Homo sapiens: one gene and its partners. The protein of the gene in region 1 interacts with the protein of each later gene in a biochemical or structural test. Each region holds a gene or a part of one and is shown in the gene's direction. Other genes may lie near its edges. The genes, in order: SHANK1, DNM2, ABCC6, SDC3, MYOZ3, CYTIP and IQSEC2.

Region 1 (4,235 bases):
ACGCATCAAGATAGAGGCCTCCCCAGGCTGAGCAGGCACCTCCTCCAGCTCATACTCGGGTACCCCGGAGAGCCTGCAGCTGGAGGGGAACCCAGAAGCTGCCTAGAACTGCCCCCTGCAGGCCCTGGAGGTGCTGTTGGAGCTGGGAGAATGAGGAAGCCTGGGCTAAGGGGACACTCACCACTCACTGCTGCCCTGTGGGATCTGCTCTGTCCCTGTGGGTGCGTCCCAGGCATGAATGAGCTGTCTGCCTGCAGCTGGCTGCATATGCGTGCCTACACAGACATGTGCAAACTCTGAGGAGACGGTTGGGTGTGTCTGTGTGTGATGAATAAGGATATGCAACTATGAGGGGATATGCCCAGTAGTGCACCATAGTTGTCAAGTGAGGACTTTGGAGCCAGCCTACCTGTTCCTGATCCTTGTTACCACCTCCTTACAGCTGGATGACCTTGGGCAAGTTACTTAGCCTCTCTGTTCCTTGGTTTCCCCCTCTGGAAAATGGGGATGGCGAAAGTCCCTGAGCCTGGCACACAGAAAGTGCTCCAGGAATGTCAGCAGTAACTATCCTGGAGGGGAAGGATGGCACGGTGTTGGGCATGTAAACGGGTGAGTGCGAGCCAGTGCAATGGACAGCACGGTGGGTGGGTGTGATGGGAAGGCGTGCACACGTCTCTACAGTGCTGTAACTCCGTTTTGGTGTTGAGAGATCTGGGCATGCATACCGGGGTGAACGCCTGTGTGCGTGTGTGCGCGCGCACGTGCGTGTGTGGTGGGCAAATGTGTGCATGTGCTGCGTGTGTGCCCGGGCACAGGGGTGTGACAACTGCATGTAGCTGGGTGTGTTTGTAGCTGTGTACCCCAGGTGCATTGTGTCTGGGCATGCATGCGCTGGAGAGTGTGTGTATGTGGGGACTCTGCAGGTGCCGTTACAGCTGGTGACTATGCACCTGTGCCTTGGGGAAATGTGGCCTGGCCCAGGTATGTCCACGTGTGCCCTGACCCAGTGCTTAAATGGAAAGGGTGTGTGTGTGTTTGGGGGGACAGGGTGGGAATCTATAGCCTTCACACTTAAATTTGGGGGTGTAGAGTCTGGCAACAAATATTTATTGTGCCCCACTCTGTGTAGGGCGGCGGGGAGCTCTCTGGGAGGGGGTGGTCCTGAGGTGTGTGTGGGGGGGCACCTTATGGGGGCAGGACCCCTTCCTCGGGGTATGGGAGCAAGCAGGGGCGGAGTCAGGATTTGGGGACTCGGAGGTGGGGAGGAGTGGTGGGGGAGGGCAAGGGTAGGGGGCGGAGCCGGCGGTGGTGGGGGATGGGCGAGGTTTGGGGGCGCGGGGAGGGGCGATGTCTCCTCCGCCGGCTCCCGGAGGGAGGGGAGAGGGCGGAGGGAGGGGAGGGAGGGAGAGAGGGAGGGAGAGAGACAGGGTGAGGGAGAGACAGCGAGAGCGAGAGAGCGAGAAGGGTGGCAGAGGAGGCGCGGAGCGGGCGGCGGCGGCGGCGGCCCGAGGAAGAGGAGGAGGAAGAGCAGGCGGAGACGCGGCGCCCGGAGCCGGCCGGACCGAGCCGGGGGCGGGCGAGGAGGGGCGCGGCGGCCGCGGCGGAAGGGGGGGCGCTCTGCGGATGGCCAGGCCCGGCCCGCGGGGGGGGTGAGGTCCTCGGCCCTCCCGCCCTCCCCCCCGGTCCCCGCCCGCCCCCTCCCCGGGCCCGCTCGCCCTCCGGGGCGGTGGGGCATGGCCTGAGGGTCCCCGTCTCCGGGGGGGTGGGGGGTGGGGGGAGGGGGGAGGGGCCGCGGGCGCCGCCGACCGGGACTCAGCAGCCCCGCCAGGCAGGTAAGGGGGTCGAGAACCTGGGGGTTTGGGGCAGCTGCGGGGCCGGGGCCGCGGGAGGGGGCGAGGGCGCCCCGGATGTCCTTGGCCCGGCGCCGGGCTCCTGGCCTGGGTGTGCGGCTGGGGGTACGGGTGAGGTGGGGAGCGTTGCCCTGGGCGACACCAAATTGGGTTACGCCCGGGTCCCCGGTGCCCCGTCCCAGATCGCATCCTTGATGGGAGGGCGCGCCCCCCACCCCCGGCCAGCAGAGCCCCTATCCCGAACCCGCCTCCCGGCTCTCCGGGGCCAAGGGCTCGGTCCTGGTACCCGCCTCCCCGCCCAGCCCGGCCACTCCCCCGCCTCGCCCTCCCTGGCGTACCTGGGCCCCTCCGCCAGGTCACCCTGGTCCCCACTCCCCTCCAGCGAGGGTCTAGGCCCGGGCCTCCTCCGCCCCTTTCGACCCCTCCAGCTCCCGCTTCTCCTTCCAGGCTCCTCCAGTCCCTTTCCACCCCTGTCCAAGCTCCCTGCGTCCCCACCAGGTCTCCAGTCCCTACACCGCCGGCCGGCGCGCCCCCTCGGCTCCCGCCCCCGACTCCTGCTCCCCGGTGCCCCCCGCCCCTCTCCCCGGCCGGGTTCTCCCCCACCAGTTTCCCAGCCTCGGCTCCGGCTCTCTCTCCCCGCCCCTCCCCGCCTCCCTCCGCCTCCATTCATTCTCCCCGGCCCCGCTCTCGGCCACGCCAGCCGCCCCCTGTCCCCCCACAGCCTCCCAGGGCACCCCCTCTCTCGCGTCCTCCACCACCCCCCTCGCCGATTCCTCAGCCCGTCTCGGTACCAGCTGCGTGCCAGCTATTCTTAGCCGCGGAGCGTTTGATTCATGCCGCCCCGGCGGAGCGTGCCCGCTCCCTCCCGCGAGCCCTGAGGGGGAGGGGCCGGAGCCGGCCCGGGGGGGCTGGGGCAGCCGTACGCGCGGGGGGCCCTAGCCAGCTTTTCTTTCATCCCACCGGCCACCCCCTCCGAGCGGGGTTGAGGCTGGGGGTCAGCCAGGGTCAGCCGAGGGGGAGTGTCTGCGGGCCCCAGATCGCGAGGTGGGCTGTGCGGCGGGGCAGGGAGGAGGCAGCCGGGGTCTCCGCAGGGACGAGGTGGGGCGGCGTGGCTGGGTACCTGGAGGGGGAGGGGGCTTCGCAGCGCTGCCGCGCGTGGGGGAGGGGTCCGCCGGCCCTGGGTTAGAGGCTCGCTCGCCCACACCTCCTGGAACTCTCCTCCCACCACACACATTTAGTCTTCCCTTTCCCAACCCCCCAGCCCATCCCCACTCCCCCAAAGTCAGCAGTACCCTCCACTGCTTCCCATCTCCATGGCAACGGTGCAGGAACCGGGCCTGGTGTTGGGGGGAGGGACCAGACCAGACATTCTGGTTTCCGGTGCTGGGGTGGGAGTTGGGGGAGAACAGAAGGGAGGCGGACCCCATTTGGAAGGGGCTCCACCCTCATAAGGCCACCTCAAGGGAGAACAGCAAGGATCTAGAGATGATCCCCCACTCAGTTCCCCAGACCCTCCTCTCACTTCTTAGCCTCCCTCCTAACACCCCCAGTCCTCAGAGTGGAGCCCCTAGTACCCAGCAAGCCAGCCCACCCACCCTGCAGTCCTAGAAAAGAGCTACAGGTCATCTGCAGCCACCCACATCTACCCGGGCCACCACACCACTGTCACCTGGACAGCACTCCCCAGGCCGACCTCCCCACCTACCCGCACACCCTCTCAAGATGCCCCAGTCTCCAAAAGCCACCTCTTGTGGTTCCCTTGGGGACACCCTAGGCCAAATGCTCTGCCCATGACACCCCCATCTCAGTGCCCCTTGCTCCCCTGGGACGGCAGATTCCCCAGCACTATTCGGCATGCCACGCGTTGTCAGCCACACTTGAGTGAAGTCACCAGCTCCACCCGCTCCAGGCTCACCACACCTCCCTCTCCCCCTTACTACATCTCAGTGTCAGCCTCAGCTTCTCCCCAACCCCACCCCCCGGCCCTGGGATGAGGGGCCAGGCTGGGGCCAGGAGGGCAGGATGCCTGTCAGTTTGTCCACCTGTCTGTCCTTAGCTAATTTTAGCTGCATTTTCTGTGGCCTGGCAAAGTGGGCCAGTAGCTCCCGCGGTGATTCTGCGGTTTCTGGGACACGGCCACGCTGGGTCACCAGCAAAGTGGGGCGCAGGGGGCGGGCTGCAAGCGGGGCCAAGGGCAGGGAAGGAGACACATGCCAGAAGCATGTCAGGGACAGGGGTGTGTGCGTGCCAGCGTGGGAGGAGGCGGCAGGGGAGGCCGTGCAGGCCGAGGGTGTGTCCAGCCTCCTTCCTGCCTATCTTGGGCAGTGGGGGTAGGCTGCCCTTGACCGCTTGACCACCGAATAGCGCCTGCGGCCTCTGAGGGGT
Region 2 (3,500 bases), about 40 Mb from region 1:
GGTCCTGATGTGGGAGGATGCCCGGAGGCCAGTTTAGCAGGCCAGTGGAGGGAGATCAGATCTGGGAGATATTAGGGTGGGACCAGGCCTCTAGGAACATTGTGGGCAGGGAGGCTGTCTGAGCAGAGGGAAGTAAAGCTGGTGGCGCTACTGCTGTCCCTCTGGACCTGGCCAAGCTGAGGGCTCTCTCCTTTGATTTCCAGCTTCAACTCAGTTTTCTCAGTAAGCAGACTCCACAGGCATGTAGGCGCCCCGTGCCATTTTTCTTTTAATAAGAAGCAGCTGTGCCGGGGATGCTGGCGTTTCCAGCTGCGTTTTTATTTGGCCTTTGGTGATGTGTCCCTCCAGGGATATGTGGATGAGCCGCGGGGGCACTGCCTGTGCCTCAGTGGGTGCTGCACCAGTGCACATCGGATGCCCGTTGGCTCCTGTCCCTGACAGATGGAGGGGCACGTGATGTGTTCCTTGGGCTGGTTTGTCCCTTTAACAGATCTTATTAGTTTAGAGCCACTTGGAAATGACATCTTCTGTTTCCAGTGACTTTCCTTTTGGGCAAAGACAAATTGCATCTTGAAAAGGCCATACATGGCCGGGCATGGTGACTCACACCTGTAATCCCAGCATTTTGGGAGGCCGAGGCAGGCAGATCACAAGGTTGGGAGTTTGAGACCAGCCTGGCCAACATAGTGAATCCCGATCTCTACTAAAAATACAAAAATTAGCCAGGTGTGGTGGCGCATGCCTTTAGTCCCAGCTATTTGGGAGGCTGAGGCAGGAGAATCACTTGAACCCAGGAGGAGGAACTTGCAGTAAGCGGAGATCACGCCATTGCACTCCAGCCTGGGGGACAGAGTGAGACTCCATCTCAAAAAAAAAAAAAAAAGGAAAAAAGGAAAGGCCATGCAAGGCTCGGTTAGGGTGGTCTGCAGTGCTGGGCCTGCTGGAATTGGTACAGTCCAGAGGGATCTGTGGGAATATGGAAGGCTTGGTTCTGCCACACACCAAAAAAGTGACCTCACTTCTCTGGGCCTCAGTTTCCTCATCTGGAAAATGGGAACATGGTGGTCTCTGCCTACTGGGAGTGGACTGAGAATCACGTAGCAAATTGTTGTGAAACAGGCAGCATTTGTGATCTCGTTGGTTGGCTTTTGTCTCCTTTTATCTGGGATCAGGACTCTGATGACAGGTGTACGTTTCTTTTCTCTTGCTCTGTCCCCCAGACTGGAGTACAGTGGCGTAATCATGGCTCACTGCAGCCTCCAACTCCTGGGTTCAGGTGGTCCTCTCACCTGAGTCTCCTGAGTAGCTGGGACTATAGGCATGAGCCACCACACCTGGCTAATTACAAAAAAATTTTTTTGGCAGGGAGCGATGGCTCACACTTGTATTCCCAGCACTTGGGGAGGCCGAGGCGGGCGGATCACGGGGTCAAGAGATTGAGACCATCCTGGCCAACATGGTGAAACCCTGTCTCTACTAAAAATCCAAAAATTAGGTGGGTGTGGTGGCTCTCACCTGTAGTCCCAGCTGCTCGGGAGGCTGAGGCAGGAGAATCGCTTGAACCTGGGAGGCGGAGGTTGCAGTGAGCCGAGATCGTGCCACTGCACTCCAGCCTGGGCGACAGAGCGAGACTCTGCCTCAAAAAAAAAAAATTTTTTTTTTTTTAGAGACAGGGTCTTACTTTGTTGCTCAGTTTGGTGTCAAACTCCTGGGCCCAAGCGATCCTCCTGCCTTGGCTTCCCAAAGTGGTGGAATTACAGGTGTGAGCCGCCGAACCCGGCCTTAGTTTCTTTTTCCTTAAAGAGAAGGAACTCATCATTACTCTGTTGATATAAATGGAGTGCCTATCAGTGCAGGCAATGTTCTTGCTCTGGGGATACAGCCAGGACCAGGACATGCAGGCACGCCCTGTTCCCCAGATCCTGAAATATCGACCAGAAGTTGTTCCTGGTTCCTTTCTAAGTGGGAATCATGGCTGCAAACAAGTAATTGGCCGTGAGAGTTATTTACACACATTTTGTGTACGGTGATGAGAAATGGGAGAAAAAATGCCCAGCATCGGATCACCAGAGGTCAGGAGTTCGAGACCAGCCTGGCCAACATGGTGAACCCTCATCTCTACTAAAAATACAAAAATTAGCCGGGCGTGGTGGCAGGCGCCTGTAATCCCAGCTATTCGGGAGGCTGAGGCGGAGAATCGCTTGAACCTGGGGGACGGAGGTTGCGGTAAGCCGAGATTGCGCCGCTGCACTCCAGCCTGGGCAACAGAGCGAGACTCTGTCTCAAAACAAACAAACAAACAAAAACCAATGATAGGGGATTTGGCCAGATAAGCGTGTCCAGACAACCGACTATCAACTCGCTACTCAGAGGGATCTAGAAGAATCTTTAATGACCCAGAAAGCTGCACAAGACCTGTTAGGTACCAGATGAAATGGGCTGTGGGATCCTGTCTTGTTTAAAACGATTGTATTTGCTCAGTGAAAAGACCGGAAAGACATACTCTGCCCTAACCCCACATGTGAATCGTCTCCCCATGTGATTCTTGGTTTGTTTTTGCTGGTTTGGGGATTAGGTTTATAATCAGGAAGACAGATTTCTCCAAAGCTGCGCTCTAGGCTGTCCAAGTGCTTTTTCAGAGTTACTTATTGACGGATAACAGCCCTTGATAGGTTCATAACATTGAAATCCCCTGGTAATAACCTGGATTGTTTCTGGATGAGGGCGGAAGATGGCCTTGGGGACAGTTGTAGATTTAGAGAGGAGGTTTTCTTTTCTTTTCTTTTTCTTTTTTTGTTTTTTTTTGAGACGGGATCTCACTCTGTTGCCTAGGCTGAAATGCAGTGGCGTGATCACAGCTCACAGCAACCTCAACTTCCTGGGCTCAAGGGATCTTCCCACTTCAGCCTCCCAATTAGCTGGGACCACAGGTGTGCGCCACCACCCCCAGCTAATTTTAAGAAATTTTTTGTAGAGGTGGGGTCTCATTATTTTTTGCCCAGGCTAGTCTCAAACCCCTGGGCTCAAGTGATTCTCCTGCCTCGGCTTCCCAAAGTGCTGGGATTACAGGCAAGAGCCACGGCACCCGGCCTAGGTTAGATTTAGAGTTTTCAGAGTTGGCTTAGGCGGTAGAGGCTGGCCTTTGAATGGAACCCTGTCTCGCTGTCGCTCTCAGCGTTTATATTTGGCTCAGAGCCACATCTGCCAAACTTCTGCCCGATTTGAATGAAAGTGCTGAAATTATAGGCCCCTCGGCTGCTGAAAAAAAGTGAGAACATCATGTAAACCGTAATTTACTGGGATTGCCAACTACAAGCTGTAATTAAGCCCTTATTGTGTTAAAGCTTTGGAAAAATCCAAGCCAATAATGAGATATTTATAGGGCATTAGCTACAATCTGAATAAAGGGAAAATGTGGCCCTGCGTCTGAAGCAGGACTGCAAAGAGAGGAAAGACGCCTGCTTCCGGGTGCGTTTTGGGTTTCTGTGAATATTGGTAAC
Region 3 (3,500 bases), on another chromosome or scaffold:
CTTTAAACTGAGGTTCTTTGAGCAGTTCCTCCAACGTAACCTAGCTCTGGCCTTCCCTCTGGTGTGCCCACGTTCTCTCATTTTCTTCCTTTCTTTTATTCAATAGAGAAACCAAAATATATTAGAGAGACCCTAGAGACTTACTGGCCCAACAGAGAGTTGCTCCTTGATTTCATAGCAGGGATTGAAAAATGACTTGGAGAAAGGATAGTTTTTTACCTGGTGAGTACATTTCATTTCCTGCTGTTTCTCCATACCCACAGTCATCTCATATGTGCACGATTGGAGCACTTCCTGCATTTTGGAAAACACTCGGTTGGCTCAAGCCCTTCCTGTGCATTATTTATATGACAGTTACAGGTCAGGAGTGATCTGCAATGCCCTTTACACATTGTTCACATTGGCACGTTGCTAGCTGGTGACCCTGGTATACTCAGTATCAGCCAGGATGTTGCAGAACCAGCTCCCAGTTGGACATGGGGCCGCCTACCAGTTTGCTGTGACCTCTCTTATTGCCCCCCAAGCTTATCTAAGCCTGTATCCTCAGGTGCTTGGATTCGCCCTCATAGTCCTGTGTACCTCCAGCGTGGCTGTCGCTCTTTGGAAAATCCAACAGGGAACGCCTGAGGCCCCAGAATTCCTCATTCATCCTACTGTGTGGCTCACCACGATGGTAATGATGCCTTCAGTCTGGAGCCCGGCTTCCTCCCAGCTGCTGCTTTGCCTGCCACAGTGGAGAACAAGGGGAAGAGAAGAGGCTCCCCTCAGCCTCCCACCCTCCCCTAAGGGGCCTCCCTGACTTTCCCGTCCAGAGCTTCGCAGTGTTCCTGATTCACACCGAGAGGAAAAAGGGAGTCCAGTCATCTGGAGTGCTGTTTGGTTACTGGCTTCTCTGCTTTGTCTTGCCAGCTACCAACGCTGCCCAGCAGGCCTCCGGAGCGGTAAGTCGGGGCGTGGGCCACCCTGGGAAACCAAAATGGTGGCTCATGCCTTGGGTCCCTTCCTTTCTCCTCCTGTTTCCACATACAACTTATTCTCTATACAGTGACACACACAAGCCAGTCACTTACACTCTAGAGACACAAAATCCACTCCCGCACCTGTCAGTACCCATCATCCCATACATTTCTTATCAACACAATTTCCTGTCTTACAGGCCCACATCACACGTGCCACTTGCACACGATGCACACACTTATAGGCACTGATTCATACATCGCACAAGTACATGCATGCACGCACACACACACAACCTGGGCACAGACACACCTGTGTGCACACATACCCCTCCGTGCACACCTCCCCTCATGTCATGGATTCACCCTCCCCATGTTCCTATGCACCTATATTTACACACTCATTCTGCACACCACTCGTATTTCTGTTGCCCAATCTGGGAAGCAGCTTTTTTTTTTTTTTTTTTTTTTTTTTTTTTGAGAGGCTTGCTCTGTCGCCCAGACTGGAATGAAGTGGCATGATCTCAGCTCACTGCAATTTCTGCCTCTCGGGTTCAAGCACTTCTCCTGCCTCTGCTTCCTGTGTAGCTGGGATTACAGGTGTGTGCCACTACACCTGGCTTATTCTAAATTTCTACTAAATTTCTACTAAAAATTTCTACTAAATTTCTACTAAAAATTTTTGTATTTTTAGTAGAGACGAGGTTTCACCATGTTGGCCAGGCTGGTCTCGAGCTCCTGACCTCAAGTGATCCACCTGCCTTGGCCTCCCAAAGTGTCGGGATTACAGGCGTGAGCTCTTGTCATTCGGCCGGAAGCAGCGTTTCTCTATTAGGAGACATGATGGGTCATTTTCTCTGTAAAGAGAAAAACATGTAGCCTAGACCAACTTCCCTCAGCCTCAGCTTTAGTAATGTTGTGGCCAGACAATTCTTTGTTGGGTGGACAGGGCTGTCTTGTTTGCTGCAGGGTGTGAAACAGCATCCCTGGCTTCTGCCCATAGGTGCCAGTAGCATACCATCCAATTGCAGTAACCCAAAATGTCTCCAGATATTACCAAGTGTCCCTGGGGGTGAGGAGGACAAAGTCACCCACCTATTGAGAAGCACTGGCCTCGACAGTGTGCTTAGCCAAGGCTTCTGGGAGAGGGAGTTATCTTAACACCAATGAACAGGCTGCAGCAGGTTTCAGATATTTTACTTCATTATTTTATTTTTGTGGAGACAACATCATGCTTTGTTGCCCAGGCTGATCTTGAACTCCTCGGCTCGAGCAATTCTCTGACCTCAGCCTCCTAAAATGCTGGGATTAGAGGCATGAGCCACCACGTCTGGACTCACAGATCATTTCTTCAGTCCAGTGGTTACTCCATCCTGCCCCTAAAGGAGAAGGTAGAGAAGCATCACCCTGTCCTTAAGGACAGAGTTTTTATTTTTTGTTTGTTCATTCTGAGACAGAGTCTTGCTCTATTGCCCAGGCTGGAGTGCAGTGGCACGATCTTGGCTCACTACAACCTCCACCTCCGGGTTCAATCGATTCCCATACCTCAGCCTCCCAAGTAGCTGGGATTACAGGCATGTGCCACCATGCCCAGCTAATTTTTGTATTTTTAGTAGAGACAAGGTTTCAATATGTTGGCCAGGCTCATCTCAAATGCCTGACCTCAAGTGACTCACCCGCCTCGGCCTCCCAAAGTGCTGGGATTACAGGCGTGAGCCACAGCGCCTGACCGAGGACAGAGTTTTTAAAAGAGTAACCTTTGTAACTAAGGGGAAATTCCACAGGTTATTCAGTAATTTCTGAAATGGTGGGCTCCCACAGTTGACATAAGTCAGCTTTTTGGGACACAGCATAGAAACAATAATACTGGGACCATATACATTCTGGGGTTCCAACCATGTGCCAGGCACTGTGGCAGGCACTTACACACGTCTCCTCACTGGATTCTCACAAGAGTTCACAGTGATGGGTTCTTTATTTTTTTAAATAGAAATAGAAACAAAGTCTCATTATGTTCCCAAGGCTGGTCTCAAACTCCTGGGCTCAAGCGATCTTTCCACCTAAGCCTCCCAAAGTGCTGGGATTACAGGCTTGAGCCAATGTGCCCCAGCCAATGATGAATTCTAGCCGTCCCATTTTAAAGATGAGGGAGACTAAGGCTAGGAGAAGGGAATGACGGCCTCAGGGCCACAAAGCTTGGGAGTGCAGAGCCCGAGTTCATCTCAGGCAAATTCAGAACAAACTTTCTGAGAGAAACAGTGGGGAAAACAGTGGGAGTTTAGGGAAGATGGGCCATATTGTCATTGGAATATCCAATTGTCTGCTATCTGCCAAAAAACAAACAAACAAACAAAAACCCAAAACTAGAAGAGTATAAAATCCAGTAGAGGAATCATGATTTAAAACTAGGGCTCTGGTTTAAAGCCATAAAACCTCAGTTCACACTAGCTTAATGAAAAGGGTAAGTCAAGGGGGTTCATTAGCTCATGCATTTATTAGCTCATACCCATGGGATCTCCCAGGCATGACTGATCCAGGCCTGGG
Region 4 (3,500 bases), on another chromosome or scaffold:
AGAATCAGAAAGGCCCTTAGACCACCATGCTTGGTTTTCCATTTTGCAAATGGGGCAAAGGAAAGGCAGAGAAGGGGGAAGAGGATTTGTCCACGGTCTTGGAGGCTGTGGGCGCCTGAGCCAGGGCTGCTACCTGCTCTCCTGTTGGGGCTGGGGTGGGGATGTGGGTGGAGGCAGGTGCCACAGTGGGAAAAAGGGCATCCTGGGGGGATGGTGGGAACACAGGGCTGGGTAGAGGGCAGACTGGAGGTGACAGGAGAGATACAGGCTTGGGGTAGGGAGGGCTCTGCTGCCATGATATCTTTGCAGAGGAGTTGACTGGGATGGGACAGGCCCAAAGGGAACATTTCCTGCCCTCTGAGCTGCCTTTGTAGATGGGAGTAGGGGGTGGGGATAGGTTTGGTTTGTGAGAGGCTTGAGTGTGTGAGTTGGGGCGAGTGGGAGGGTGTGTGTCTGGGCTTGGTGGATTTTTCTTGGGGGGGGTCTGTGGTGTTTCAGCTTGGCCTTCTCTGCCCTCCCCATTCCACTCCTCCCCGGGCTTCTGCTCTCTGGGACTTGGGCTCCATAGCCCCTTCCCCAGCAGGTGCAGTCCTCGTGCCCCTCATCTCCAGCCACAAGTGGGTGTGGGACTGCCGGCTTCCTGGCCAGGGCAGCTGTGGCTGGGTGGGGGTGGGGACTGAGACATCCCCCTCCTGGTCCCGGCTCCCAATTGTGCAGCCCCCTTGGCTGTCTTGCTGCCCGGAGCTTGGCCCCAGCCCACATTCCTGCGGTGATGCTCTGGGTCTCCGGGGTGGATCTGGTGAGCGTGAGGGGCACTGAGTTCTCACAGGACTGAGGGCTTTTTGGGGACGGAGCCTGCAGGGATCCAGAGGGCCATGCTGAGACACCCTCCCTCCCTGCCTCGAGGAGCTAGTAGTTACGTCGCTGTGTGTCTTTGGGCAAATCACTTTACCTCTCTGAATGCTTCGTGGCAGACTAACCCCGCCCCCTCCTTTCGTGATAAGCAAGGCTTTCCCCTCTCTGTGCCTCAGTTTCCACATCGGTAAAAGGGGAGAGTTGAACTCAGTGATCCCTCAGGCCCAGTGTAGCCTTGAAGTTGCAGCCTGAGGTGGGAAGTGCAGGCTGTAGGAATATAGACAAAGCCTTATACGGCTCCGACTGTGTGCAGGCATGATCTCACTTGATTCTCACAACTGCCCTATGAAGTATCATTGTTGGCCTCATTTAACCAAACAGGCTCAGAGAGGTTAAGTAACACATCCAAAGTCACCCAGCAAGTAAGCAGAGCTGAATTTGAATCCAAGACTGTCAGAACCTAAAGCTGGGCCCCCACCCCTTGCTCATGTCGCCTCTGGTCACCAGGAAAGTGAGGCCTGAGTCTGGCTAATTAGGGGAAGGAAGCTCGGGCAGAACTAATTACACTCGATTTTATTCTTGGCTTTTTGCAACATGATTAGCGCTGCACAGGGGTGCCGGGCTCCTGGCCCCCAGCCTGCTGACCTAATTTGTGTGCTTGTGTCTGTTTCTGTAACTTGCCCTTTCTCCCCCTTCATCCAACCTCTCTCTTTTTGTCTCTCTCTGCACTCTCCCCTGCTGTGTGGCCTTGGCAATGCCACTTAACCTCTCCGGGCATTAATCGTCTCATCTGCCTGGGTGTAGTCATCCCAATTTGGCTTCCCTCATGAGGAGGTTGAGGCTTACATGAGATAAAGGCTTCGAAATAATAATAGAAATTTTAACATAAACTAACAGCAATCGTGGCTACACTGATTTATTCATTTTTCACTTGGTGTCGGGTCCTGTGCTTAGCCCCTTCCCACAGCAATGCTATGAGCTGCGTAGTCTTCTCATCATCTCCATTTTACAGATGAGAAAACTGAGGTGCTGAGATTAAATGGCTTGCCTGACAGCCAACCGGGTAGTAAAGAGGAGCTGGTTCATTATGCTTTGCCTCTGTGCTGACCGGTTTCTCTAGGAAGGCTCATGGTGGTGTGGGGCTGGGCACGAGAGACCCCAAATTCTGGAGTGGGCTCTGAGAGAGGATGGGGTGGGAGGGATGCACTGGCCTTCCTGAACGTGTCCCCTGCACTCAGAGTGAGTGATGAGTGGGTGGGTAGAGGTAGCCGTGAAAGTGAGGAGACTTAGCTGACATCCAGCTCATTTGGACCCTCACCCATCACAGCCCTGATGGGGTGCTCCTGGGAGGGAGGGGGCTGGGCAACCTGGGAGGTGGCACCTCCTTGCCCCTGGCCCAGGGGAGCCTCCCCAGCTGCTGCTCTAAAACTCTAGGAGAGGATCGGTGGGAGTGGATGTGGAGTGAGGGGGCCTGTGGGTCACTGCTGGGCCTGGTCCCTTCTGGGCTGGGAGCCTGAGGTGCCTCTGTGGAGTGAGGCTGTGGGTTACTTCAGGAAGGTGTGGTGACTAGGGGACTGTGAGGAAAAATGGAAGCAGGGGGCATCAGTCCACTAGGAAGGGTGCCACATTTCATCCCGATGTGTGTGTGCACTTGTGTGTACCCGGAAGGAAAGTGCGTGTTTGCGCGCATGTGTGTGTGGAGGGAACTGAGATGCAGGTATTGTGGACCTGTTAATGGCATGTGAGGCGGGATGTATGTCTGCTGGGGCAGGTTCAGGGAGGGACAAGTAGGCTGCGCACATGTGGAGGCAGGGTGTTGGGAGTGCCTGGTGTGTTGGGTCCCGTGCTCAGCCCCTTCTCCTGCAATGCTATGAGCTGCATAGTCTTATCACCATCGTGTGCTGGCGCGTGGGTGTGGATGTTGGGTGGGCATGGACAGCTGTGGGCATTGCCGAGTTGATGTCATGCAGGGGGTGAGGGCAGCTGCGGGGCACAGATGTATGAATTTAGCCCTGGACAAGCAATGGGTCTGGGGGTGGCTCAGGAATGTCCAGGACAAGGGTTTCAGAGACAGAGGCCTCATGCCTGGATTCTAACCCCTGCCTCAGTTCCTGCATCTGTGGAATGGGGATGATAAAACCCTGGGCAGTTGTGATGCTTAAAGGAGGCTGCATAAATAACATGCTCCCAGCACCTGGCCTGGGGCAGGCCCTCAGCAGCAGCAGGCAGAGGTCTCTAGAGTGCCCTGGGAACGCTCAGCGGCTCCCCTGGGACCTGATGCTCAGGCCTTCATGGGCCGCTTGCGGAGCCTCTGCTGGGTGTCCCCTCCCGAGATCAGTGGTGGCCGGAAGCAGAAGGTTCAGTGCTTCCACCGGGCACGCTCGCTGTGTGTGGGGGGTGCAGCCGAGAGGAAAGGTTGTATCCGAGTTGTGAGGTTCATGTCTGAGTCAGAGGATGCACCTGCCGAGGGTGATGTCTAGGAGCGATGTGTGTTTAGGGAACATACGTGGCCATGGCGGTGGGTCCGTGTTGTGGGCCTTGGTGAGGTGAGTGTGGTGCGTGGGGTCAGGAGAATGTGCTGAGGTTTCTCGGGGGCATCCGTGGGGTGTGTGGTGAGGAGAGGAGTGTGTGTGTGTGTCTGTGAG
Region 5 (3,500 bases), on another chromosome or scaffold:
GCCTGTAATCCCACTTTGGGAGGCCGAGGGAGGCGGATCACTTGAGGTCAGAAGTTCAAGACCAGCCTGGCCAACATGATGAAATCTCATTTCTACTAAAAATACAAAAATTAGCTGGGCTTCTTGGCACACACTTGTAATCCCAGCTACTCAGGAGGCTGAGGTGGGAGAATCGCTTGAACCTGGGAGGCGGAGGTTGCAGTGTGCCGAGATCCTTCTACTACACTCTAGCCTGAGTGACAGAGCAAGACCCTGTCTCAAAACAAAACAAAACAAAACAACAAAAAAAAGTATTATTAAAATCACATACATAGGTTCTCTTTTAAAAAATGTTAGGCAAATAAATGTAGAGCCCCTTTGCTCACCATCCTCCAATCCCAGTTGCCTTCCCAAAGGTAACATGGTTGTCAGGCTGGCCTGAATGGGCTCAGAACATTTTGTGTGGGCAGCTGCATGCCTGTAGGGGGAATGGCGTTTGTGTGTGTGTGGGGGTGTGTGTGTTAATACTTTGCACTTCATTCTGTTAACTTGCTTTTTTTACTCAACATTACGCTTTCGAAATCTACCATACTAATACGTAGAGCTCTAGTTCCTTTTAAGCTGCTGTATAGTTTTCTTTTTCTTTTTTTTTCGCGGGGTGGAGCAGAGTTTTGCTTTTGTGGCCCAGGCTGCAGTGCAATGACACAATCTCAGCTCACTGCAACCTCTGCCTCTCAGGTTCAAGCAATTCTTCTGCCTCAGCCTCCCAGGTAGCTGGAATTACAGTCACCCACCACCATGCCCATCTAATTTTTGTGTTTTTACTAGCGACGGGGTTTCACCATGTGGGCCAGGCTGGTCTCGAACTCCTGACCTCAGGTGATCGGCCCTCCTCGGCCTCCCAAAGTGTTGGGATTATAGCCGTGAGCCACCGTGCCCAGCCTGCTGTATAGCTTTCTATCGTGTGAGCATGCTCTATCTGTCTTGCCCATTTCTCTGCTAGTGGACACGTGGGTTGTTTCTGGTTTGTCACTAATGTGCTGCTCAGGTCTGCATCCCAGTGCCTACGCGCCTGTGCTTTCCTAAGCCATATGCTCAGAGGTGAAGATGCGGGGTGACATAGTTCACACATTTCAGGTTAGAAAGATCCTGCCAAATTGTCTTCTGCGGTAGCAGCACTGGCTTACCCTCTAACCAGCAGCATGTGTGAAACTTTTCCCCCGCCATCTCACCAACTTTGCCCAGTTACCACATTATTTCATCGTGCCAGTGTCCTGGAGGAGAAATGGCATATCTGTTGTAATCTGCATTTCCCCCCTGATTTTCAGTGCTCTTTCTAATGCTCTCTTCTCTCTCTAGTTTTGGGCCTTTTGTCCTAAGGGGAGCTTACTGAAGGGGAGTCTAGAGTCTTGCCTAGGACAAGTCAATTCTGACTCCATCGGCTTCACTTCTATTGCTAAGCAACGAACCACCCAAGTAGGCGCAGACTTGGAAATGGGCAAAGTTGAAAAAAACCTCTTAAGATGTACAGAATTGCTGGGTGCGGTGGCTCACGCCTGTAATCCCAGCACTTTGGGAGGCCGAGATGGGCGGATCATGAGGTCAGGAGTTTGAGACTAGCCTGGCCAACATGGTGAAACCCCGTCTCTACTAAAAATACAAAAATTAGCCGGGCATGGTGGCACGTGCCTGTAATCCCAGCTACTCAGGAGGCTGAGGCAGGAGAATTGATTGAATCTGGGAGGCGGAGGTTGCAGTGAGCTGAGATCACCCCACTGCGCTCCAACCTGGGTGACAGAGCGAGACTCTGTCTCAAAAAAAAAAAAAAAAAAAAGATGTACAGAATCTTGCTGTATAGAAGGGAAAACTGAGGCTCAGAGAGCGGCAGGGAGGGGCCCATACATGGTGATCCACATGTCAGTGTACTGCTGTCCCTGTTCCACACAGCCCACCTCTCCTGCTGCTCTCTTTCTCCAGGACCCCGGTGCCATTTGGAGGACCCCTCGTGGGGGGCACTTTTCCCAGGCCAGGCACCCCCTTCATCCCGGAGCCCCTCAGTGGCTTGGAACTCCTCCGTCTCAGACCCAGCTTCAACAGAGTGGCCCAGGGCTGGGTCCGTAACCTCCCAGAGTCCGAGGAGCTGTAGCCCTAGCCTGAATCTTCAGTTCCCCAGTCTCGGGGGCCTGGTAACATCCGGAGCCAAGACTTGTGGACAGCACTTCACAGTTGAAGAAGGGCCTTCACACACAAAACCTGATTGCAAATGGCTTCAGAGGTCACCAAGTTCAGTCGTCCCAAAACATGGGTGTGTTTCAAAATTACCTGGGGATGTTGTTCCAAATCCAGACAACTGGACTGTCCCAGACTTGCAGCATCAGAGTCTCCTGAGTCGAGGAATCTGTATTATTAATAGCAACCAGGGCCGGGTGTCGTGGCTCACGCCTGTCATCCCAGCACTTTGGGAGGCCGAGGCAGGAGGATCACCTGAGGTCAGGAGTTTGAGACCAGTCTGGCCAAAATAGTGGAACCCCGTCGCTACTAAAAATACAAAAATGAGTCGGACATGGTGGTGCATGCCTGTAATCCCAGCTACTTGGGAGGCTGAGACAGGAGAATCACTTGAACTAGGAGGCAGAGGTTGCAGTGAGCCGAGATTGCGCCACTGCACCCCAGCCTGGACAACAGAGTGAGACTCCTTCTCAAAAGTAAATAAATAAATAGCAACCAGTACTCCAGGTGATTCCAGCATAACTTATCCATGGTTTGTGTCATTAGGAGTCCACATCCACACCTCTGCTCTTTCCTGTTCCTGTAGTGTACACTCCCCCGGTGACAGGGTGCTCACTGGCACCCCATCTTCCTGTGAATAACTCAAATAATTAGAAAATGTTCCTTTTACTGAGATGCAGTTGGTCTTCATCTATTCATGCTCTAAACAGTTCCTAAGCGCTGACTGTGCGCTAGACACTGCCAGGCCCGGGCCTCGAGGAGGAAAAGACAGTAGGGAAGACATTATAGAGCATGAAGTCACCATAATTTTCCCTAAAGCATGCTTATTGACAATTGAGGAACAAAGTGTTGTGGAGCAGAAGAAGGAGTCCCTCACCCTAGGTGTGAGATGGGATTCTGGAAGCTTCCTGAAGGATTTGAGTGGGACCTTGTGGGAGGCGTGAGAGTCCATGAAGGGGGTGTGAGGGGGAGGGTATTTCTGGAAAGTGGACCAGCATGTGCAAAAATATGGAACTGAGCACGGGTGCAGGGTGTTCTGCAGAAGGGAGAAGGCTGTGCTAGAGGAGCCAGTGAGGGCCAGCATGGGGTGGGCTTCACTAAGGAAATGGGGAAGGTTTTAGTGATGGGTCTTGCTGGGTGCTGTGTGGGGCGCATATTGGAGAAGGGTAATGCCAGAAGCCAGGAAGCCTGCAAGGGATGAGGCCATGGGAATGGAGAGAAGGGGCCACCCACTGGGCACCTAACAGGACAGGTGCAAAGTGGGGTGCTTATTAAGATTCCTTCTTTCCACT
Region 6 (3,500 bases), on another chromosome or scaffold:
TCTTCAGAATCAATTGGGTGTTTACATTCAGAATTATTTAAAGATAGATTTCTCTGTGTGCATATTATCTCACTACCTGTACTGATAGGAAGTGTCAGACACCCCAGTATGGCTTCTACTTGTGAACACAGTTTTAGGACAAAAAAAAAAAATCTTTGCAATGGAAAGCTCGGTAGGAAGGAGACAGGAGGAATTAAGGACAGTCTCTATCAATGATGTCAAAGAAGTAGTGATTGTCTTACCACCCACTCTCATAAATGTAGTACGTTGCTTTTGGAAAGCAGTTTTTACAGAATGCTATAGTGAGAACCAGGGACCTGACAAACAAGTCCACAAACTTCAGTGGTACCACAGACTGACTCTCTTTTCCTAATTTTCTTTTAGTTATCACATTATTGCTAAATAGGCAACTTCTGGCAGGCTGATTTCATCTATAAGTTCAGATAGGGAATGTGTGCTCTGCTCTGGGATGTGTACACTGCTGGGCTGGGCTCTGCCCTGCAGGAGCTTTCACGGTGTGTCCGGCAGCACACCCATCAGGTGCCGTAACTCCCAATTGTCCTGAACTACACCAAAGGATTTTAATCACCTCATGACAATTTTAGGTAGAAAACTGTGCTAATTTCACTAGAAAAGACTTTGAAAATTATTCTTTAATCTGTATTGTGGCATGCATGGTCAATATCCAATAATTTTTCTTGAAGAGTCTGTGAGCCCACCATCAGACCTTACTTGGAAATGGCGGTATTGTATTTCGGTTTCTCCGGGCACTTAACGTCAGGAAATTAAGTTCAGCTCCATTATTTTGTTGCATCTTTGAATAGTCTGTGGAGCGTTGATATCCTAATGCTCCTTATTTAAAAGTGGGTGGGAGTTGCATGGAAGAATTGGGGAGTGAGGCAGGGGACTGGAAAGGGAGCAGAGCACATAATTTTGGGGCCTTTGAAACAAGTAACAGTGACAAAAAACCTCACTCTGGAATCAGTAACCTCTCCCCCGCACCCTCCCCAACACTTTCAGGAGATGAGTATATAGAGTGGGGACCAGGAGGAAGTAACCTCTGTAACCCAGAAGTGGCTAAAGTGTTGAACTTTGAGCTTCTCTAAGGAGAGCTGGCTATCTGGCTGAGCTGCCAAGTACTCCTGTCTTTCAGAAATTGACAGCTGAAGTATTTGGTCTTGGTTTCCCACTGAAGAGGAATGTGTAGAATCACTGCAGAGCAGAAGAAATTAAATTTTGAATATTAATGCCTGATCTTTTAAGTTATCTGACTAAAAACAGAAGAGTGATCATAAGCCCAACCCTAGGTATCAGTGTATTATGGCTAGCAAGGAGTTAAGAAGCTTTGTCTATTCAGCAGTCATAATTGAATGTGTAGTTTGCAAGCCTGCCAAATTGCTAAACCTAGATTTCTCATATTAGATAATGTGTAATAAAAGACAGCTGTTGCCAGCATATGCTGTGAATTGCACACCAGTTCCTCATTCATGATTTTTGGCGCCATCACTACAACCCTTAGAAAAGGCTCTGACTGGAGGGCTGTCTGGGGAACATAGACCCCACTGGTCAGATCCTTGAATAAGGCTGCTCGCCCTAGGGAAAGCGGGGCAGGAAAGACTTTTTTTTTTTTTCAAAGTGCAAAACCCTTGATAAGACCTTAGACACACTTCATTTCACTTTAGGCAGGTAGTTTGGTGTGTGAGCTAGTTTCGAACCCTGGGAACATTCCTTTCCACATCGCCTGAGTCTGACAGCCCGGATCAAAAACAAGCAGGCTTTGTGTCAAGACGTGGCACGTGTCAGAGAATTTGACGGTACTTAATTTATTTAAATTGTTTTTTGTTTAAGTGTTAGATGCTTGAAACAGCCTCTTAGCTAATACCGAATGGAAACTAATTTGTAATTTGACTTAATCTGACTTTTGGTGTTGCTGATAACCCAAATTAGTCAGTCCACAGGAACTGAAAATCTGCTATGCTTCTCATGTTGTGCTAGACAAATATTTTCATCTTTAACTAGTCAATTAGCTAGATAGAAAGGTTAGAAGTAGAGTGGTGGGGGAAATATCTATAGAGGCTTCAGGTCTGTCCTGTGGTTTAAAAGATTTTACATTTGAATCTATCCAGAATGACTTTTGATTCAAAAGACCGATTGGATGAAATCTTGAAGTTCCTAATAGATGCACTGATTTCCGGCATACTAAAAGGGTATTTAAAATTGACAAGGCTCAAAATTTTACTAATAATTTATTAATTCTTGCCACCATTCATCCACTTAGCAGCTATGTACTAAGGCACTACTATCTTTGTTTTCTGTTAGTACTTTTTCTGCATTTCTTGTTTCGGATTGAATTTTTTTTTTTGTTCTTGTCTGTTTTCTTTCATTTAAAATTTTTTGGTTTTTAAAATTTGTACTTATTCAGTTGATATATAATCATACATACTCATGGTATACATAGTGATGTTTTGATACGTGGAATGTACAGTGATCAGATCAGAGTAATTAGCATATCCATCACCTCCCTCACACAATGATCATTTCTTCATTTTGGGACTGTTGAATATCCTCCTTCTAACTATTTGAAACTAGTACATGATATACTATTGTTAACTATAGTTAGCCTACAGTATAGAGCACTAGAACTTATTCTTCCTATCTAGCTGTAATTTTTTATCCTTTAACAAGTGTGTCCCTATCCATTTCTTCCCCCAACCCTTCCCAGCCTCTAGTATCCTCTGTTCTACTTTTTACTTCTATGAGATCAACTTTTTTTAGCTTCCACATATGAGTGAGAACATGTGGTGTTTAACTTTCTATTCCTGGCTTATCTCACTTAACATAATGTCTTCCAGTTCAATCCATGTTGCTGTGAATGACAGGATTTCATTCTTTTTTATGGCTGAATTGTATTCCATGGTGTATATATACCACATTTTCTTTATCCATTCATCTGTTGTTGGACACCTAGGCTGATGCCATCTCTTGGCTATTGTGAATAGTGCTGTAATAAACATGGGAGTGCAGATGTCTCTTCGATATAATGATTTCCTTTCCTTTGGATGAATTCCCAGTAGTGGGATTGCGGGATCATATGGTAGTTCTATTTGTAGTTGTTTGAGGGACCTCCATACTGTTCTCCATAGTGGCTGTACTAATTTACATTCCCACTAACAGTGTATGAAAGTTCCCTTTTCTCCTTATCCTCACCAGCATTTATTATTTATTGTCATTTTGATCATAGCTATCCTAACTGGTGTGAGATGATACCTCATTGTGGTTTTAATTTCCATTACCCCAATGATGAGTGATATTGAGCATTTTTTCATATATTTGTTAGCCATTTGTATGTCTTCTTTTTCTTCCTTTCTTTTTTTTTTTTCTTTTTTTTTTTGAGATGGAGTCTCACTCTGTCGCCAGGCTGGAGTGCAATGGCATGATCTCAGCTCACTGCAACCTCCGCCGCCCGGGTTGAAGCGATTCTTCCAACTCAGCTTCCCTAG
Region 7 (3,500 bases), on another chromosome or scaffold:
CTAGTAGATTGCCCCTCCTGCTCTCTCTCCATCAAGCCTCTGATGAGGTGCAGCCAGACCATGTTCTGCAGTCCAGCTCCAGTAGTTTCACTCTCTCTTTGGCCTGAGAACTCCTCCGCCTGCCCTGCATGGTCTTCTTAGGATCTGTCCCCAGTTTGCCTTTTTCCTCTCGTCTTTGTACAGACTATGCTCCAGCCAGGCTGACCCGTGTGCCCCCCTGGTTAGCCCACTCAGGCCTTCTGCTAGCCTCTAGGTCTTTGCTCATGTTGTTCCCTTCTCTTGGGCTGCTGTACCCAGTTCCCAGGCTGGACTCAGCTGTTACCTCTCCTATGTCTGTTTGCTGGTGTCTCTGATGTTTGGTCTATCCTTGACCCTCTCAATGAGCACATTGCCCCTTTTTATTCCTTCATGGTTGTTTACATCTCATGTCCCCTCTGTTAGACTGAGACCCCCTTCAGATTTACATTTAACTGACATATACTGAGTGCATTTTGTGTGTCAGGTTCTGTGTTAGGTGCTGTGGGCATGAGTGAAGGAGCTAAAAGCTTGGAAACACATAGCACAGCACATAGTAGCTGCTTAATAAATACTGAGTAGATAAATGAATGTCTGATTGAGTCCTGCTGAACTAATAGCCAAAGGTACCTAATTTTTTCTTCCTTCCAGGACTCCTGTAGTAAGAAATGACAACTTCAGAATTCTCTTGGGGTAGGCACAGTAGCTCCCAGCACTTTGGGAGGTCAAGGCGGGAGGATCACTTGTGCCAGGGAGGTTGAGGTTACAGTGAACTATGATTGTGCCACTGCACTCCAGCCTGGGCAACAAATTGAGATCCCATCCCTAAGGAAAAATAAATTCTTTTGGCTTTTCTGTGGCTTTTTTCTCATGCTCCCTGGAGCCATTTTGGCCTTTGCTGTCTCTTCTCACGCTCACCAGCCTTCCGATTCATAGAATGTCAAGGTAGCAGACTTGGACGAGACTTTGGAGACATTTAGACCAATCTGCTGATCATTATCTCTCCCTGCCATGTCAGGCTGTGGTCCTGACCCTCGATGCCAAGTCTTCTGTTCTGAAAGGAGCAAAGAGGCCTGCACAGGACCTGTGTGCAGTTCACTCAGCCCAGTGGGAAGTTGCTTATTTATCCATCAAACCTTTCTTGAGCTCAGACCCTGAGCTGGACATGGTATCTCAGGGTTGACATAAGACTTGGCCCCTCTGCCTCACTCACTGCAGTGTTCCCTGGCAGGATCATAAACATTGGTCATGGGGAAGAATGCTTAGTAAGTGACTTACTTCCTCTTTTGGGGAAGCTCGTTTAGGGCAACATAATTTGCCAGTTACTATAACTTCCTCATGGTATTTGGTTTCTCTCCAAGCCTGCCTGTTGGAAGCATTTACACGGGGAAGCCCATTCCCCAGTGCTTAGTAGCTGAAGCTCTCTGGGACCTTAGCATTCAGAGAAAGTGTGGTGCCATGGAAGGACTTTGTGTAACTCTAGGCAAATCACTTCACTTTCAGAGCCTCAGTTTTCTCAAGTAGTAAATAGGAATAAAACTGTATTTTCTGATGCATGAGATTCATGTTGCCAGCCCCCTACCTCCCTCAAAAAAATTGTATCAGAAAATTTCCTGGCTGCCTGGCATACCGTACATCAAGGTCCTGATCAGGCTGGAAAGCTGAGAATGGAAAATAATACATGAGACTGCCCTGCCCCCTAGAGGCGGAATGTGGCAAACACACAACAATGCAAAGACCGATGCATCGCATCCCTTTCAAAACAAAGATGACAAGCCAGAGCTACACGGCTGATCAGGATTATTCCTCCAACATTTTAGATGTAAATGTATCACTATCATCACCTAATAGGTACCATTTCACTAATGTTTCACTAGTGCATTTCGTTGGAGCGATGTGATTTTTATACCTTTTTAAAGGAGTGATAGGACTGCATATCCAGGCCCTGTGATTTCCTGCTGGATTCCAGGATACAGCATACTGCATTCACCTGAATAAAACCAATATTTTCCTTCATATAACCACTTTAGAATTATTGTCATTATATCTGTGATGAAAAGTACCTAACTTGGCTCTTCCCCCACATTTTCTTATAAATCTGAGAGGCATCTCTCACAACTGTATATCTGATATGCCAGCCAATTCATAAACAACCCATCTCATTGTGATGGTTGTGAAAATTAAATAAGATGACGTAGGTGAAGCGCTGAGCACACAGTATGTGTTTACTCAGCGATAGCCATTATTATTAATAATAACTCTGTAAAGCTCTGTGCTGTGGGAGGACAGGAGGAGAAACCATGTGGCAGCTCACCACATTTCAGAGAGAGAGGTCAGTCCAGTGAACATTGCATGCCAGGATGTGCCATGCCTTGTGCCATCACAGGCAGAGAATTCTATGATTAGTATATAGTTCCTGGCTTCAAGGTGCTCATAATTGGGTGGAGAAGGTGGTGGTGGAAATAGACGATTGCAGTGTGCTATCCAGTGTGTCATGCCAGAGGGGAGCACAGGGGGCCACAGGTGCTCAAAGGAGAGACATCACCCTGGACTGTCAGGGAAGGCTTACTGGAGGAGGTGATACCTGAGCTGAGGCTTGGAGGATGAGTTTGAGTTAGCTAGGTGAAGAAGGACAGCATGTGGGTTGGTGGGAATTGGGGGCAAAAGGGAGGTTAAGGCAGAGGGGCCAGCATGAGCAAACACACAGAGGTATGGGCCCAGCAGGATATGTGTATGGGGAGGTTTTTTGTTTGTTTGTTTTGTTTTTTTATGAGTTCAGTACAAACTAGAGCACAAACAGAGAGACTCGCAGGGGAGTCTGGAGGGTTGGCCGGCTCACATCTTGAGGACACTTCACTAGCAGCGTCAGGAGCTTTCTGCTGTTTTGTTTTTGTGTTGTTTTTGTTTTTATTTTTTTGAGACGGAGTTTTGCTCTTTCGCCCAGGCTGGAGTGAAGTGGCGTGATCTCAGCTCACTGCAGCCTCTTCCCCGCCCCAGGTTCAAGCAATTCTCCTGCCTCAGCCTCCCGAGTAGCTGGGATTACAGGCGTGTGCCACTATGCCTGGCTAATTTTTGTATTTTTAGTAGAGACAGGGTTTTGCCATATTGGCCAGGCTGGTCTCAAACTCCTGACCTCAGGTGAGCCACCTGCCCTGGCCTCCCAAAGTACTAGGATTACAGGCATGAGCCACCATGCCTGGCCAAGTAGCATTTTAAACTGGGGGAGAGGTGCTTATTGTGGTGTGGGAGAACATGTCAAGAGCCACGTTTTGGAGAGATCCCCCTAGAGGGCAGTTTGGAAGATAGATTGGAGGGTATCCAGGGAGGAGGCTGGTACAGCAGTCTAGATGAGAGATGATCAGGCCTGTGCTTGGGCAGTGGGAGTAGAGATAACCTATGTGGGGAGAAAGATGATGATGGAGGGGAGCGCAGCCTGCTCTGGAAGCTCAGAGGAGTGGCAGCGTTCATGACCAGTAGGGTTTTAA

What was found.
Region 2: the proteins of SHANK1 (region 1) and DNM2 form a complex in vitro, tested with the Homo sapiens proteins (one study listed by BioGRID).
Region 3: the proteins of SHANK1 (region 1) and ABCC6 interact in a test that uses a peptide from one of them, tested with the Homo sapiens proteins (one large-scale study listed by IntAct).
Region 4: the proteins of SHANK1 (region 1) and SDC3 interact in a test that uses a peptide from one of them, tested with the Homo sapiens proteins (one large-scale study listed by IntAct).
Region 5: the proteins of SHANK1 (region 1) and MYOZ3 interact in a test that uses a peptide from one of them, tested with the Homo sapiens proteins (one large-scale study listed by IntAct).
Region 6: the proteins of SHANK1 (region 1) and CYTIP interact in a test that uses a peptide from one of them, tested with the Homo sapiens proteins (one large-scale study listed by IntAct).
Region 7: the proteins of SHANK1 (region 1) and IQSEC2 interact in a test that uses a peptide from one of them, tested with the Homo sapiens proteins (one large-scale study listed by IntAct).

Annotation. Positions count from the first base shown.
Region 1 is NC_000019.10:50,717,003-50,721,237, reverse strand, and holds the start of SHANK1 (SH3 and multiple ankyrin repeat domains protein 1), read left to right. Parts: upstream 1-1,435; 5' UTR 1,436-1,832; intron 1,833-4,235. UniProt on the Homo sapiens protein: Seems to be an adapter protein in the postsynaptic density (PSD) of excitatory synapses that interconnects receptors of the postsynaptic membrane including NMDA-type and metabotropic glutamate receptors via complexes with GKAP/PSD-95 and Homer, respectively, and the actin-based cytoskeleton.
Region 2 is NC_000019.10:10,724,579-10,728,078, forward strand, and holds part of DNM2 (dynamin-2), read left to right. Parts: intron 1-3,500. UniProt on the Homo sapiens protein: Catalyzes the hydrolysis of GTP and utilizes this energy to mediate vesicle scission at plasma membrane during endocytosis and filament remodeling at many actin structures during organization of the actin cytoskeleton.
Region 3 is NC_000016.10:16,216,995-16,220,494, reverse strand, and holds part of ABCC6 (ATP-binding cassette sub-family C member 6), read left to right. Parts: intron 1-547; coding exon 548-673; exon of another isoform or gene 674-812; coding exon 813-941; intron 942-3,500.
Region 4 is NC_000001.11:30,881,259-30,884,758, reverse strand, and holds part of SDC3 (syndecan-3), read left to right. Parts: intron 1-3,500. UniProt on the Homo sapiens protein: Cell surface proteoglycan that may bear heparan sulfate. May have a role in the organization of cell shape by affecting the actin cytoskeleton, possibly by transferring signals from the cell surface in a sugar-dependent mechanism.
Region 5 is NC_000005.10:150,674,751-150,678,250, forward strand, and holds part of MYOZ3 (myozenin-3), read left to right. Parts: intron 1-1,956; coding exon 1,957-2,125; 3' UTR 2,126-3,500. UniProt on the Homo sapiens protein: Myozenins may serve as intracellular binding proteins involved in linking Z line proteins such as alpha-actinin, gamma-filamin, TCAP/telethonin, LDB3/ZASP and localizing calcineurin signaling to the sarcomere.
Region 6 is NC_000002.12:157,437,590-157,441,089, reverse strand, and holds part of CYTIP (cytohesin-interacting protein), read left to right. Parts: exon of another isoform or gene 1-1,814; intron 1,815-3,500. UniProt on the Homo sapiens protein: By its binding to cytohesin-1 (CYTH1), it modifies activation of ARFs by CYTH1 and its precise function may be to sequester CYTH1 in the cytoplasm.
Region 7 is NC_000023.11:53,311,351-53,314,850, reverse strand, and holds part of IQSEC2 (IQ motif and SEC7 domain-containing protein 2), read left to right. Parts: intron 1-3,500. UniProt on the Homo sapiens protein: Is a guanine nucleotide exchange factor for the ARF GTP-binding proteins.